2 separate regions of the Homo sapiens genome follow, and region 1 is linked to region 2. Evidence: fine-mapped expression QTL. A gene starts in region 2. The other region holds a variant in brackets. All regions are shown on one strand. Distances are from middle to middle. Region 1 overlaps ATP2C2 (ATPase secretory pathway Ca2+ transporting 2). Region 2 holds the start of ATP2C2 (ATPase secretory pathway Ca2+ transporting 2).

What was found. PIP is the estimated chance that this variant, and not a neighbour inherited with it, causes the effect.
Region 1: its variant is fine-mapped to the expression of ATP2C2 in whole blood (TOPMed, PIP 0.94).

What each region holds. Positions count from the first base shown.
Region 1 is chr16:84,458,911-84,466,910 of GRCh38, forward strand. ATP2C2 (ATPase secretory pathway Ca2+ transporting 2) reads left to right here. Exons shown (of 27, transcript NM_014861.4): 22 at 210-278; 23 at 360-476; 24 at 1,744-1,891; 25 at 2,804-2,902; 26 at 3,078-3,219; 27 at 4,704-5,277. The coding sequence ends at 4,822. ATP2C2-AS1 (ATP2C2 antisense RNA 1) reads right to left here. Exons shown (of 3, transcript NR_146503.1): 2 at 2,785-4,089; 3 at 349-1,983. Among named protein-coding and RNA genes, the nearest start is that of ATP2C2-AS1, 4.4 kb to the right of the region's middle. RefSeq lists enhancers at 191-690, 2,046-3,245. The variant G/A (reference allele first, on the strand shown) is at 4,398.
Region 2 is chr16:84,364,043-84,372,042 of GRCh38, forward strand. ATP2C2 (ATPase secretory pathway Ca2+ transporting 2) reads left to right here and starts at 4,496. Exons shown (of 27, transcript NM_014861.4): 1 at 4,496-4,672. The coding sequence starts at 4,574.

The DNA.
Region 1 (8,000 bases), 95 kb after region 2:
GGATCAGTTCCCAGTGGCCGAGGGGCACCTGTTAGAACACCACCGTCTCCTACAAATGTGTCCCCAAGAATGCCAGCAAGGGGAACCAGCAGGGGCCCAAGTATAACATCAATCTGGGCGAGTCACCACTGCCCCTTGCAGCAACCGATGCACTGGTCCAGCCCTCACGCAGGCCCGCTCCGTGAGTAAATGGCTCTCTTCTCTTGCAGGAATGCAGTGGAGGAAGGCAAGGGTATTTTTTACAACATCAAAAACTTTGTCCGATTCCAGCTGAGCACGTAAGTAGAGGCCAGCATTCCGAGTGTCATTAAGCACCACGCCTGGCGGGCGGCCGCTGACTGGCTGCGTGTGCCCCGCAGGAGCATCTCCGCCCTGAGTCTCATCACTCTGTCCACCGTGTTCAACCTGCCCAGCCCCCTCAACGCCATGCAGATCCTATGGATCAACATCATCATGGATGGGCCACCGGCGCAGAGGTGAGGCAGGGCCGGCTGGGAGCCCTGTGTCTCTTTACCCACCTGCGGGGCTTCCTCCAGGGGCTGCTGGCTGTGCCCCAAGGCTATAGGGATGAACAAATACAGCCACTTTCCATCAGGAGTTCCCAGAAAACTGAAGTGTGTTGCACTGCAGTGAGACTGGGAGTAGAAGGCAGAGGAGAAAGTACCTGGGCCGGCAGAGCTGGGTGAGGATGGAACTTTCTGCTCCCTCTGCCTGGATGCTCTCTCTGGGCAACCTGCATGGCTCATTCTCATGCTTCATTCCAGTCACCAGTCACTGCCTTCAGGAAGTCTTCCCTGATTGCACTCCCACTCAATCCCCTCACCCTGCTGTATTTTTCCCTAGAGAGGAAGATACACACAGACACACTTTTCCTTATGGATCTGATTGTGATCTGTCTCCCCTTTAGAACATCAGTTTCATGGAGGCGGAGTTTGTGTTTCATCCCTGATGTCTAGAGATAAAGGGCTTGCCACTCAGTAGGTGCTCAGGAGTCCACCCGCTCCGCCACTTAATATCCCCTTCAACAAGCTGGCCAAGTGGTGTGGGGGAAGGAATGCGCTTTGGAGTCAGGGGACCCATCTGGCCACGTGTGCGTAACCGTATGAGCACAGAGCCAGTGCTTCCGCTGGAGCTCAGTGCTGCTGTTATCACCAGTGATAGCTGCCAAGGGAAAGAGAGTCCTCATTTGTGTCCCCAAAGCCAAGTGTGAGGGTTACCTCTCCTGCCAGCCCTCCCTGGGAGCAGAAGTGGGACCAGGAAGCTGGCCTCAGCTGTGTCTGAGCGGCAGGGCCTCACCCGGCCACTCCCACCATACCGCCTGCTGCGGGTCTAGCCTCAACCCTGCTGTGTGGAGTTGGCTGGAGGCTGGTCTCTCTCAGCTGATGAGGGGCTCTGCGGAGGGCGGAGCCTGGAGCCTGTTTCTCCAGGCGCAACGTTGGGGGGGGTCCCCTCGGGGTGATGGAGATCATCTGGGTGTATGGAACTGTGTGTGGTTGGCCTTACGGGGTGGTCTTCCTTCACTGTCTGCGGGACAGATGGAGGGGCACAGCTGCCCATGGACCCAGGCTCTGGGGCTTCTGGAAGGTGCCGAGGAGGGCAGGTGCGATGCCTGGGGGCGTTCAGCAAATGCCTGGCCCTGCCCCCTGTGCCAACTTGGCCTGGGAGGCTCAGGCACAGCTGTTTCAAGGGTCCTTTATTTCATTCCTGGTTCATTTCAAAGTGTCTGTGTCTTGTTCGGAGCAGCTTGGGGGTAGAGCCCGTTGACAAAGACGCCTTCAGGCAGCCACCACGGAGTGTGCGGGACACCATCCTCAGCAGAGCCCTCATCCTGAAGATCCTCATGTCCGCGGCCATCATCATCAGCGGGACCCTCTTTATCTTCTGGAAGGAGGTGAGCGAGGGTCACCCCGGCCTGTTCTCCAAGCCCTGGTGCGGTGCAGACGCTGGGGACTGCAGTCCCTGCCCTCCTGCCACAGCTCACATCTGGGAGAGGCAAACATGTACACACACCGGACAATGTGATGCCATCAGAGGCGTGGGGTGCATGAGGCAAAGGGACTGGGTGACCCTTGAAAGAAGGGAGGTCGCCAGGTGTGTGCCTGGGAACTACAGAGGCCAGCGGGGTGGAGATGACTTTGCCGAGACGGGAGTTGAAATGTACATGAGGACAGGCTGCCCCCTGTTCCCTTGTCACCAGGAAACAATTTGAAATCTGCTAAATATCCTCCTGTGTTACACTCTAGAGGTGATTGTTTGCTTTGGATCTAGGCCTGGGTCACCTTTTCATGGCCTGCAGGTTCAGGGAGCTCTATGCCAGGACGGGCCACGATCTAGGTGGGAAATGAGGCAGGTGACCCATGTGACCACACCACAGATTGCCCATGTGCAGGAAGCGGGAGGGGACCCTGGCCGGGTACCCTGCCTCCATTTTCCCTCCAGCTCTCCCTCTACTACTGACGGCCATCCTTCAGCCTTCCTTGTAGGAAATGACCTTCACTCTGGGTTTAACTGGAGTGGCATCACCTCCCAGGGAGACAGTTACTTCCTGGAGGAAGTGGTGTTTCCTCCACCCATAGGTGCCCTGCCCCCATCCTCATGGTGGCAGCAAATCAGCATGTGCTGGGGAGACCCTGGGGTAGCAGCCACTGACCTCACACCTGGAGGAAGCTGTGTGACCGATTCATGAGCTTGTAAGTGGCTCCCAGCCATGCCCCAGGAGCAGTGAGGCAGGCCTGTGCCCTTTGGTTCAGGATGGAGGTTGTCTCTTCCCGCCTAACCTCTCACCTTTGTGCTCACCTTCCAGATGCCTGAAGACAGAGCAAGCACTCCCCGCACCACGACGATGACGTTCACTTGTTTTGTGTTTTTCGATCTCTTCAACGCCTTGACCTGCCGCTCTCAGGTGAGACCCGGGCTGACCCTCCTCGCTGCAGAGCTGCTGTGTGTTCTCGACAGCAGCGCCCCGACCCTGCCCGCAGCATTGAGCGGCTCTGGCTCAGCGTGGGCAGTCAGAGCTCCCCTGCCTGTACCTGGGGTGTGGACAGCACACAATCCCCCGTGTGACCTTCTCCCTGCAGACCAAGCTGATATTTGAGATCGGCTTTCTCAGGAACCACATGTTCCTCTACTCCGTCCTGGGGTCCATCCTGGGGCAGCTGGCGGTCATTTACATCCCCCCGCTGCAGAGGGTCTTCCAGACGGAGAACCTGGGAGCGCTTGGTGAGTGGTGGGGACGGGAACGACAGGTGACCTCGACCAGGGCCATGGGGGGCGGCAGCTGCCAGGTGGGGAGCTGCAGCCCAGGAGGGGTCAGTGCGGGAAAGCAGAGCTCACCAGGGGCCGGCTCTGTCTTCAGGGCCCTTCTGTCCTCACAGGAAGGGACTCTAACGTGGGTGATGTGACGGATGCACAGAAACCCCTAGGAAGAGGCCTGTCACTCAAGAGTAGTAGGGTCTGGGGCCCAAGGGGCACCGGCATCCCAGGCGTCGGGCTGGAGGCTCAGAGCACGTGCAGGGAGGAAGGAGGGAGCAAGGCCTGTACTCAGCCTGGGAGGTACCCCAGCTGGGGAGCCTGGACTTGACCCTGGGGCCAGTAATGTGACTTAGAGATCTGGTCACCTGAAGGCAGGGAGCTGGGCTGTCTTCCAGTTTTGGCTGAAAGGGACATGATTCAGTCACCGTGGTTTTCCAAGGGCACACGCCCTGGTGTGGAGCCCAGGGGACTCCCCGACATTGTCAGCCAAGCGAGTGTGGCACCTTTCTCTGAAGCTGCGGTTATGGCAGGCATGGGGCAAGGGGAGGGAGCCAGGGACAAGTCATCGACCCCACCCTTTTCCCCAGTGTGCTGAGAGCCAACCCCAACCCGGAATAGAGGACGAGGGAGGCCAGTGAGGCAGCCCCCATGGGCCCACCGCCTCCCCGCCGGCAGGGCCCAGAGTGGGTCATGGCTCAGATCTGGAGGGTCATGGGATTATGCATCAGACCTGAGGCTGCAGTGACAACGGTCCTATGACCTCCAGGCAAGACTGGGATGGTCAACTCTGCCTTGTCCTCCAAAAAGCAGTGTCAGTGTGGGTCACCAGTGAATGCCCTGTAGGAACAGACAAGAGGACCCCCCAAAACACTCTGCTCACTGGCTGTTTCCACCCGCCGGGAAGGAAGTCGGCTTCCCACGCCTGAAGGGGTTGTGCTTGGGCAGCCCGTACATCAGGAATCATCAACAGGGAGCCAGGGATGGTTCCTCAAAACAGCATGTGACAGGAGCAGAGGGAGACGCTGGGAATTCATCCCAGGGAACATGTCGCTGGGAATTCATCCCAGGGAACATGTCGGGGTGCACTGGACAGGGAGCCCAGACTGGTCACTCAGGACATTTGCAAGCAGCAGGGCACTGGGACA[G/A]CTGCTGTAGGGAAAGGAAACTCATTCCCCTTCCAGCCCGAGTCCATAACATGCTCCCAGCTGCCTGCCAGACCCACCCTGTGCTCTGGAGCTGCCTGGTGTTTGCCTGGAACCACAGGCAGGCCCTTCTGGAACTGCAGCATTTTGGATTCTGGGTTAGGAAGATCTCCCTGCCTTCAGGGGAATGAAAAGGGCTGGTCCTCCGCACCTCTCACTTTATCAGGAGGACTGGCAGGGAAGGCGCTTCCTGCCGGCGCAACAGAGCTGCAGCCCGTCCTGAATCTTTTCTGTTTTCTCCCTTGGCAGATTTGCTGTTTTTAACTGGATTGGCCTCATCCGTCTTCATTTTGTCAGAGCTCCTCAAACTATGTGAAAAATACTGTTGCAGCCCCAAGAGAGTCCAGATGCACCCTGAAGATGTGTAGTGGACCGCACTCCGCGGCACCTTCCCTAATCATCTCGATCTGGTTGTGACTGTGGCCCCTGCCGTGTCTCCTCGTCAGGGGAGACTTTTAGGAGGCCGCAGCCTTCCATCACCGGATCAGTTTTTCCTCTTAGGAAAGCTGCAGGAACCTCGTGGGCTCCAGGGACCCAGGCCCACATCCATCCAGCGTTCCCGCTGGCTGTGGGACAGACAGGGAGGGGCCTGTACAGAAACACCACACTGTTTATTAAATCACAATGATTTTTATTAACCATGTCTAACTACGTATCTGTGCCACAGCTTGCAGTGAGGCAGGCCACTCGTGGCAGATACAAGGGGCTCCTGAGAGGCAGTGGGTAGGATGGTCACACTCTGCCCATTGCCCTCCTGGAGGCCCCATTTCCTCATCATAAAATGAGGGACTTTTAAATAAAGTGCTATGCCGGGGGATAATTATTTTGATGTGTTTACCTAGGGTTTTTCATACAAGGGGCCAGGTTGGAAACCCACAGCCATGTGTTAATGGCCACGTGGGGTGAGCAGCAATCCATCATGAATGGCCTACAGGAAGGCCTCGGCTTTTGGACATAAAGAGTAGGGCTGGGCATGGTGGCTCACGCCTGTAATCCCAGCACTTTGCAAGGCCAAGGCAGGCAGATCACTTGAGGCCAGCCTGGCCAACACAGCAAAACCCTGTCTGTCTCTACTAAAAGTTTAAAAAAAAAAAAAAAAACAGTTGCCAGGCGTGATGATGCACACCTGTTAATCCCAGCTACTCGGGAGGCTGAGGCAGGAGAATGGCTTGAGTCCAGGAGGTGGAGATTGTACCACTGCACTGCAGCATGGGCAACAAAGCAAGAGTCTCTCTCAGAAAGTGGCCCTTCTCTCCGGAACCAGGAACTGTAGTATCTCCTGCTGCCTGCAGACAAGCTTGATTTCCCACTGCCCCAAAGACTTCCAAAAACCGATCTGCTCTTCCACGTGACAGATGGCAGAGGAGAGAGGTCTCCATGCTGTTCTTCTGCCTGAAGCCACGCCAGAACCACCAAAGGGAACCAGAAGGGGAACTCCGTCCCCATCTCTCAGGAAATAAGGCCAGAGCTAGAACCCCCCATTTACTAGTCAGGCCTCACTAGAGAAACAGAACCAACAGGATGGAGGGAGATGCAGAGATTTGTTTTAAGGAACTGGCTCATAGGATGTTGGGGGCTGGCAAGTCTAACATCTTGAGGGCAGGCCAGCATCCTGGAGACCCAGGGAAGAGCTGGGGATGCAGGCTGGAGGCAGAATTTCCTCCTCCTCAAGGGAGTTCAGCCTTTTCCTCTTATAGTCCTCAACTGATCGGATGAGGCCCACTCACGTTATGAAGGATAAACTGTTTGTTTTACTTCAAGTCTACGGGCTTACATGTTAGTTACACAGCGCCATCTAGACCAGTGTTTGTTTGACGAAAATCAACTTGGCCTGGCCAAGTTGTCAGATAAAAGTACCCGTTGCACCCAGCCACGGTAGCTATGAAAAGGGCTACCAGGGGTGGTAACAGCTGGGTCAGACGAAGATAAGGAAGGTCAGAGTGGACCCCTGCCAGGGTTCCAGGCAGAGTCCAAAGTCCTCCATAGTAGGATTCACAGCCTGGGAAGAAGCCCCTCTCTGGCTACAACCTGTGACACCAGGGCCACAGGAGGAGATGCAGCGATGGGCCATTCCTAGTGAGACACAGACACAGGGCTGGCTGGAGAAGAAACCTTTTGAGCTGTGGGGCTGTCTTCCTAGAAGCTGCCAACCCCTGGAACCACTAAGAGGTCAAGGCTGAAGTGTGCCACTTCCACAGTCTGCTAAGGAGTGCCTCCCCCTGAGTCAGGGACAATTCTTGCTCTACTTTTCAGGATCCTTGGGCACACTGCTGGCCCGAGACATTTACTTCCCATTTAAAATTAAGTAATCAAAATACCAGGGTCGATTACTCTGAACTCTTGCTTATGTAAACTTTAGGGATAAAACTGTAGTAAGACACAAAATGCTAACAATAAAATATAAATTAGACTACATTAAAACTAAGACCTTCTTTTCATTAAGGACACAGTAGACTTGAACACCACCATTAAGCAACTTAGCTTGATTTACACTTGTAGAACACCCCATTCACGAGTAGCATAGAAACAGTCACCAAAATAAAGAGCAGAAATCAAACGAAAAAGCAAAAATAGAGGAAAATCAATCAAAACCTAGTTTTTCGAAGAGATCAATAAAACTATCAGTCTTGCAATAAGCTTATCAAAGAAAAAAGGGAAGAGAAATGACCAATGTCAGGAATGAAAAAGTATATCACCACAAACCCTTCAAGATATTCCAACAATAATAATAAATAATACTATGTACATCTTTATGTACCTAAATTCAATCAATTGGATGAAATAAACCAATTGCTTGAAAACCAAAAACTACCAAAACTCACTGAAGATTAAATAGATAAGCTGAAGTTGAAACCCTTCCAAAAAAGGCAGTTTCTGAAGCCAGATGATTTCACTGGTGAATTTTACTAAACTTGTAAAGAAATGGCAATTCGATACACTGAATTCCAAAAATAAAAGGGGACCGAGCACTTCTCATTTTATAAGGTCAACAATCACTCTGATACCAAAACTAGAGAAAAATACTAGAGACCAACATCCCTTATGAATATATGCACGAAAATCCTCAACAAAATATGAGGAAATCAGATCTAGCCAGGTACGAAGAATATAAGACACCAGGACGAAGTGGGGTTAATTGAGGAATGGAATTCAAGCATTCCAAAGTTCAACATTCAAAACCAATATAACTGAAAAGTTCAACATTCAAAAACCAATATAACTCACTATATTAATAGTCTGAAGAAGGAAAAACACATGGTTATATCAATTAATGCAGAAAAGGCATTTGATAAAATTCAATCTCCATTTGTAATAAAAACTCTCAAACTAGGAATTGAAGGAAACTTCTTCAACCTGATAAAGAACATCTACAAAAAACCTATAGCTAACATCATACTTAATGATGAAAAACTGAATTCTTTCCCCACAGGATAAGGTCCAAGGGTGACCAGCCTCACCACTCCTATTCAGCACAGTATTAGAAGTCCTAGCCAGTGTAATATGGCAAGAAAAGTTAAAAGGCATTAGCAAAGAGCCTGGAAAGGA
Region 2 (8,000 bases):
AACAAATTGTACAAAATATACTTTTGTACAGTGTACCCTTTCCAAAAAGGATGTCTTCAGTGCCACGCTTAGAGAACTTTTGAGTGAAGTTTGTTACCAAACAAAATACAGGTGTCTTGAGGTTGCATCCTGGCTCCCAGCAGGGCGCATTGCTGGGGATAATTTGTGGGCAGTGAAAAGACACGACTCTGACATAGAGAGTGAATGGGAGTTGCAGAGCATGACCTCATTGTTCAAGGTGCCCAGAGCAGACATTTTGAGAAAGGCTGGATGCCTCTGGTTGGGTCCCACCCTTGGCGTTCATCGTTGGCCAATAGGGCAGAATCACTCTGAGGCGTTGAGCCGCAAACCCCAGAAAGTTCTCCAGCCAACTGCCTTGTTAGATTCTTTGCAAGTGGGCTCTAGCATTTTACAGGCTGAAGGCAGAAAAAATAAACAAAAAACTTGAAAAAACAGAATCTTGAAGTCTGTGGGGATGACCACGGAATCCAAACAAAGTGACAGACAGAGCTCAGAAAGGTCGTTTAAGGCAAACATAAATAGCAGGTGTAACTGACGGGGAAACAACAACACACAACAACAACAACAACAACCAACTCAGAAGGTAAGAGCTTGGGCCGGGCACGGTGGCTCAAACCTGTAATCCCAGCACTTTGGGAGGCTGAGGCAGGCCGATAGATCACTTGAGGTCAGAAGTTCAAGACCAGCCTGGTCAACATGGCAAAACCCTGTCTCTACTAAAAAAAAAAAAAAAAAAAAAAAAAATTAGCTAGGCATGGTGGCGCATGCCTGTAGTCCCAGCTAATCTGGAGGCTGAGGCACGAGAATCGCTTGAACCCAGAAGGTGGAGGTTGCAGCAAGCCGAGATGGTGCCACTGTACTCCAGCCTGGGCAATAGAGCAAGACTCTGTCTCAAAAAAAAAAAAAAAAAAAAAAGAGAGAGTTTGGATAATTAACTTACTTAGAATATAAAAGGATGCAGAGGTTAGAAAAACAAAAATTAAAGTTGGAAAATTTCTTTAAATCTGGAAAAGGAAACCAAAAGAGACTGTAAATACTCATCTGTATTTCTGAAGTGTTTTCAGGTAGCTCCCAATAGAACTTTCAATGAGATGTTTATTCCAAAACCAAAGTAAAAATTGACAGCAAATTGAGTGCTTGCCTCAAAAGGCACAGAAATGAAACATGAAAGAGGATGACAGAAGTCAATCTAACAATGACAACTATAACAATGTAAACACAATACATTTCCCTATTTTTTTTTTTTTTTTTTTTTGAGACGGAGTCTCGCTGTGTTCCCCGGGCTGGAGTGCAGTGGCGCGATCTCGGCTCACTGCAAGCTCCGCCTCCCGGGTTCACGCCATTCTCCTGCCTCAGCCTCCCGAGTAGCTGGGACTACAGGCGCCCGCCACCACGCCTGGCTAATTTTTTGTATTTTTAATAGAGACGAGGTTTCACCGTGTTTGCCAGGATGGTGTCAATCTCCTGACCTCATGATCCGCCTGCCTCAGCCTCCCAAAGTGCTGGGATTACAGGCATGAGCCACTGCGCCCGGCCTACATTTCCCTATTATAAAGCAAATCGTTCATATGAAAGTTCTGTTAAATATAAATTTGAATGATCTGCTGTTTATGGGAGACATATTCAAAAATTTTTTGGAGTATTTGCCATGTTTCAGGCACATCATTTACCATAACCAACACTGGTGGAGCCTAATTTACCTAATTTTACACACCACAAATCTAATTTATAGGCCTGGGCAACAGAGCAAAGACCCCATCTCTACATAAAAATAAAAATTAGAAAATTAGCTGGGTGTGGTTCTGTGCACCTGTAGTCCCAGCTACTCAGGAGGGAGTATTGCTTGAACCCAGGAGTTCAAGCCTACAGTGAACTATGATCGCGCCAGTGCCCTCCAGCCTGGACTACAGAGTGAGACCTTGTCTCTAAAATGTACATGCATATATCCACCACCTAGAGTTTCCTTCTGGAATGCCCTGGGCATTTTCGAACCTAGCCCAGGAATTCCAGCCTTGACATCTCTGGGCTGGAGCGGAAGCCATGGTGATAGGATCCGAAAGGCTGGGCTTTCAAATCCTCTGCTCCGGGGATGCTGATCTGCCTGGAGAGATGACATCTGGTTAACAGCTTGGAAAAACATGAAGATGCCAACAAGGCGTTCTTCTTCCCTGGATCCAACATCATTTTAAAATCACAGAATGCCACTTGGGAAGGACCTGAGAAATAACTGAGCCAAGTTCCCATATGTTCTTTTATATTAATAATATAGAAGCGCCTGAGAGCCTGCAATGTCGGGTACCACGACATCGTACTACTACATCATACCTGTGCAAGCATTCACTCAGCCTGAACCACAGGATGCTGAGGTTGGCTGCGGGATGTCTCCTCCTTGTTCCTCTACAACACTCTTTTTTTTTTGTTTGTTTGACATGAAGTCTTGCTCTACTGCCCAGGCTGGAGTGCAGTGGCACAATCTTGGCTCCCTGCAACCTCCACCTTCCGGGTTCAAGCGATTCTCCTGCCTCAGCCTCCGAAGTAGCTGGGATTACAGGCGCATGCCAGCACACCTGGCTAATTTTTCTATTTTTACTAGTGACAGGGTTTCCCCATGTTGGCCAGGCTGGACTCGAACTCCTGACCTCAGGTGATCCGCCCACCTTGGCCTCTCAAAGTGCTGGGATTAGAGGTGTGAGCCACCTTGCCCAGCCTCCTCTACACCACTCTCCACCCTTCTTTGGATTCTCTGCCCAGGAGGCTGCATCCTTGGCGCTCTGTTGCTTTCTGGCTTTTGATCTAAGCAGTTGCCCTCTGCAGAAGTTATCAGTGCCCCAGAGCTCCCCCTCCAGGTAACTCCTCTCTCGTCTGGCCCTTCAGGCCTTGGGTGGGACCAAAGCCACTTCTCACTCTTTGCTAGTCTTCGTTAATGACACAAGCACTTCTGGTTTCTCTACGTCTTCCCCACAGCTTTGTAAAAAGTCTGTTTCTCAAACTCTCCTCAAATTACTATTTCCTACTGGGACCCTGACTCCTACGGGTAGGTAGTGACATCCCCATTTTATGGATGAGTAAACTGAGGTGGAGAGAGGTGAAGAAAATTGCCCAAGGTCGGAAAGGAACATTCCTGGGATTCAAATCTGGACTCACTCACATCAGAGGTTTGCTGTTACCATTATTCCTGCACCTTTGTTGAAACTGGGGAGTGGGGCCAGGCTGATACCGTAGCCTTTGTTTCCTTGAAAGAGGAAGATGCAGGAGATACAAGAAGGGGCACTGGAACTGCCCTGCAGGTTTTCGTGGCCTGGAGTCAACCCTCGGGAGCAATTGAGGTAGGTGGCAAATATTTGCTCAAAAGGGGTGGCTGAATTTCGTGGACAAATGCAGAGGGCACCTCCTGTAGCCCGTGAGTAACTTCCCTGTAGAGATGAGGAAGCCAGCGGAAAGGCGGGTGGCACGGACTTCCCCAGAGCTCCCCCTCTGCTAAGTGGTGGGTCTAGTTACGGATCTAGTCCTACCTGAAGCCAAAGAAAGCCCTGGAACTTCAAAGCACCCACTTGGCTGCTGGCAACTGTCTACACTGCGTATGGACTCACATACTTTGGGAGCCATTTGAGCCCAGCACCTTCTGATGATGAAGAGGAGGAGGATGGTGTCATGGGGACACCAGCACATTCTCTACTCCAAGCCCTGCTCGAGACCTTCCTGTACAGCACTGTCCGCTGGGGCCTCTCCATGTCACTGTGAAGGAGGCGCTATCGTGGTGGCCATTCTGCAGAGCAGTAAACCAAGGCGCTAAAAATATAAGAAACCTGCTCAGGTCCCACGACGAGCAAGAGCGGCGCTCATCCTGCAGACGAGGACAGGGGCCCTGACCATCCGAGACCATGCAGGCGCCAAAGGCAGCAGGGCTCTCAGTCGCTCCTGTTCCTGGACTCACTCCCAGGGCCCTGGAGGTGGGGGTCTTAGCCTTCTGCTGCTCCCCGCTCAATGACAGGCTAGGTTGCCGAGGCTCAGAAAGGCCACGTGACCCGTCCAGAGTGCACAGCCGCAGGTGTGAGTCTGACTGAGCTCCAGCCACCTCGCTCCCGGCGCCTTAGAGCCGCCCACCCTGGGTTCCTCAAGAGGATCACCTGGGGCTCGTTAAAAACCCAGCTCCCGGCGGCTCCAAACCGTGACTGGGCAGGGAGGGGTCTGGGAATCCGGATTTTAAACCAGCATTTGCTCCTCCACCTCCCCCACTCCAGGTGATTCTTAGGATCTGTAAGTTTGGGAAACAGCCCAAGCCCTGAGGCGACGCAGCCTCTCCCTGGGCCTTTCATGGCCAGCCGGCGCTGTCCCCAGAGCCCCTGGGGTCCCAGGCGAGCTCGCGGGGCGGGGCCGGGTGAGCCGGCACCTCCCTGTGCGCAGCCCCGCCCCAGGGGCGGGGCCTCACCTGCCGCGGGCAGGTAGACAGCTACCTGGTAACCGGGTCCGGCCCAGGAGGCTTGGGCGCGCGCAGCCATCCCGGGCCTCGCCGGGGACCTAGGGACGCAGGCAACGCCTGCGCCCGCTCACCATGGTCGAGGGACGCGTCTCCGAGTTCCTGAAGAAACTCGGCTTCTCGGGCGGGGGCCGCCAGTACCAGGCGCTGGAGAAGGACGAAGAGGAAGCCTTGGTGAGTCCCCGCGACTCCGCGCCGGGCGTGCGACCCGACCCCCCATCCCCTCCGTCGTAACCGTCCCCGGCCCGAGACCCCGCGTTCGCGCTGCGATCCGCGAACTCGCCCTCCTCCCCTGGCTCTGGAAAGAAGCTGTCCTCACAGCAACCGCGCTCTCATCTGCGCTCTGGCGCGGGGAGCTCAGCATGGAACCCTCACGTGAACCCATTTTGTGGTTGAGAAACTGAGGCCGAGAGTGGTTAAGTATATTCCCTAAGGGGCACGGAGCTAGGAAGTGACCTGGCTGGGAACTTAACCTAGGTTTCTCTGACTCCAGAGAATTAAAATTCCTGGGTCTCCAGACTTGGGCTGCTTTATGGATTTTTAAAACTTAAATTGGAAAATAAAATTAGAGGGATGCAAAAAACAAAAGATTGCTGAAATGTTGTAGCAATAATAGAAAGCAAAGTTGGAGCTGAGGGACCTCCCAGCCTCACTTCCTACAGTCAGGTACTTTTAGAAAGTCACTCAGAGCTGTATGCCTGCTTTGCAACCTTCAGGGACCCTCTGGGATAAAGCAGCAGGGTGCCAGGGCAGGGCGGTTCATGAGGGAACGAAGTGGCAAAGCTGTCAAATAAAGCCCCTCCTGTTCCTTGGATTCTTGGAAGCCAGGGGTGAAGCCAGGCTTGAGGGTGACCCAACACCCTTCTTTTTAGCTTCGCAAACAGAACTCGTTGCATGCTTTAAGGTCAGGGGGGCACTGAATTTCTGCAGAAGCGTTTCTCTGCACGCCAGAGGGTCGTTGCACTTTTTTTTTTTTCATTTACGCTTAAGCAGTCGTTCAAAAGTAACATTTCTGAACGAGTCCCCTGGGTTGCTAATTAGAAATATGACTTGGCGATGGCCTTTTGACCAGTGAAAGGAAACTTCAAAGGTAAACTTACCTTTTAATTAAAAAAAGAAATTAGCTGAAAAAATATTTGACTTAAAATTTTATTTTTTTCTCCCAAAGAATACTAATGGTCAAAACATTTTGTTTGTGAGATTAAGTATTCGTGCTTTTTTAAAAATAGTGTTTTGTGCTTTTTTAAAAATAGTGTTTTATACATCCCTGTTGATGTAAGAATTCTGGTCTTAGGGTGGTAGGCCACAGGACCACGTAACTAGCAGTTTTTGAGCAATCTCGATTTTTCTGAAGTGGCATGTTAATATTGATAGGATATAGAGTTCAATTAATTGGCTGTGATCCATTTCTCTGCTTCTGCGATACATTCTGCTAAAGGAGTTTGAAGTTTATTTGCCATCACAGGTTGCCTTTCCTATGTTGCCATTCCTGTTTTTTCCTTTCCATCTTTTGATTCTTGCATCAGGCCAGGTATTTTTCAAACTCTCCTGGTGTGTAGTTGGTTACCATCAGGTTTCACAGGATGTCCAGGAATGCAGGTGCATGGATGATGTAACCTCAAGGGAGATGCTGGGAGAGTTTGATCTCTGTGCCAGGTGGACTCGTCCCTCCAAAGCTTTGCAGGAGAGTTCTCAGAGGTCTGACAGGTGTTCAGCCGGTCTGTCAGTGTGCTCTCCCACCTGGCTGTGGACCGGGGTGCTCTCAGCAGCATCCTGAGGCCCTGGGTGCGTGATGATGGGCAGTGTGCAGCGCCAGGAGGCGGGTGATACCAGCACTGACACCAAAGGCCAGCTGAGAAAGAAGCCATGCTGTCTCCAGAGGCAGCCTTGTGCAAACCCAGGAAATGTGCAAACCCAGGAAATGGCAATGAAGATCGATGGGAAGTGTGAGGAGGGAGGGAGGTGGGGAGGCCGGGTGGCTGGGCGAGGCACTCACTTCCTGCCAGGTTGGCTCAGACCTGAACACCTCCTTTGCTGTCATACTCATGTCCTCTCGTTGGAACTCCTTTCTCCCAGGGTTTGGAAAGGAGGCGATGTGTGTTGAGGTGATCACTTCTACAATAGTTGGAATTGTCTTTTTTTTTTTTTGCGTTATTTCATACTAGTTTATTTAGGGGTTCCATTTTCACTCCTCAATAGAACCGTCTTTTATGAGCACTAATTACATGCCACATCCAGGATGCCTGTAGGAGGCCTCTAAGCCCTCCCCTCCCCCAGCCACTTTGACCAGTTACCCCAGTTCTAATAGTGATTGTTACTGAGAACTTGCTGTGTCTTCTCTTGGGCCTCTTACCTCCAAGGTAAATTTTACTCTCGTCATGTGATCAATGAGGATGTGAGGCTCCTAGTGGGGCCACGTTTGTTTGCTCAGTGAGCATTTCCTGACAGCCAGTTTTGCTAGGCGCTGAGGATACAGATGTGTACAAAACAAAGTTCATAAAGGAGGCCAATGGTCAGCTGAGAAACTGGGAGATGCTTTATTTGAGACCCAGTGGTCTCAGGTGCACTGGAGAATCAAAGAGTAGAGGACCAGACAGAGGACTGGTGGTTGAGAGGGGAACTGGAGACGACCCCATGTTAGAAGCACTGGAGACTGGATTTCAGCATTTCCAGGAATGGAAAGAAAGGTGTTTGAGCCGGGCGCAGTGGCTCATGCCTGTCATCCCCACACTTTGGAAGACTGAGGCAGGAGGGTCACTTGAACCCCAGAGTTCAAGATCAGCCTGGGCAACATAGCCAGATGCCATCTCTGCAAAAAATTAGGCGTGGTGGTGTGCACCTGTGGTCCTAGCTACTCACCAAGCTGAAGCAGGAGGATTGCTTGCACCTGGGAGGTCAAGGCTGCAGTGAGTTGTGATCATGCCACTGTGCTCCAGCCTGGGCAACAGAGTGAGACCCTGTCTCAAAACAAAACAACAACAAAAAGGTCTTTGAGAGGCCTCCTTAATTTAGTTACTAGAAAAAGCTTCTCACTGCTGACCTGAACATTAGGGTAAGGAAGAGATTGGAGCAGAAATTCCTGCTTCCCAGGTGACTCAGCGCCAACTCCGGGGGAAGCTGTCTCTGCCCCTCAGGGCTCCCATCTCTTAAGTGAGGCAGGTATAGCCCCAGCCCACTGCCTTCCTGGCTGGTGAGCAGATGCATCCTTCTGGGCTCTCCAGGGTGAGGCTTGGATCCCAACAGACGAATGTAGTGACCACCCATCCATTCAACCTAGATTCACGGAGGGGGCTCCCTCTGTGTGTCAAGTGAGTGCTACCAGCTGGAGTTGGGGCTGATAAGGATGCACAGTTCTCTACCCTCAGGTATCCCAACCAGGAGGCAGAGACAGGCACCCAGCAACTGGTCACAGTTCACTGTTTAATGCCAACGTGTCAGAGCTGGGAGAAAGACGTGATGTTTAAGATGAATAGGAGTGGCAAAGGGTGAGCTGGATGAAGGG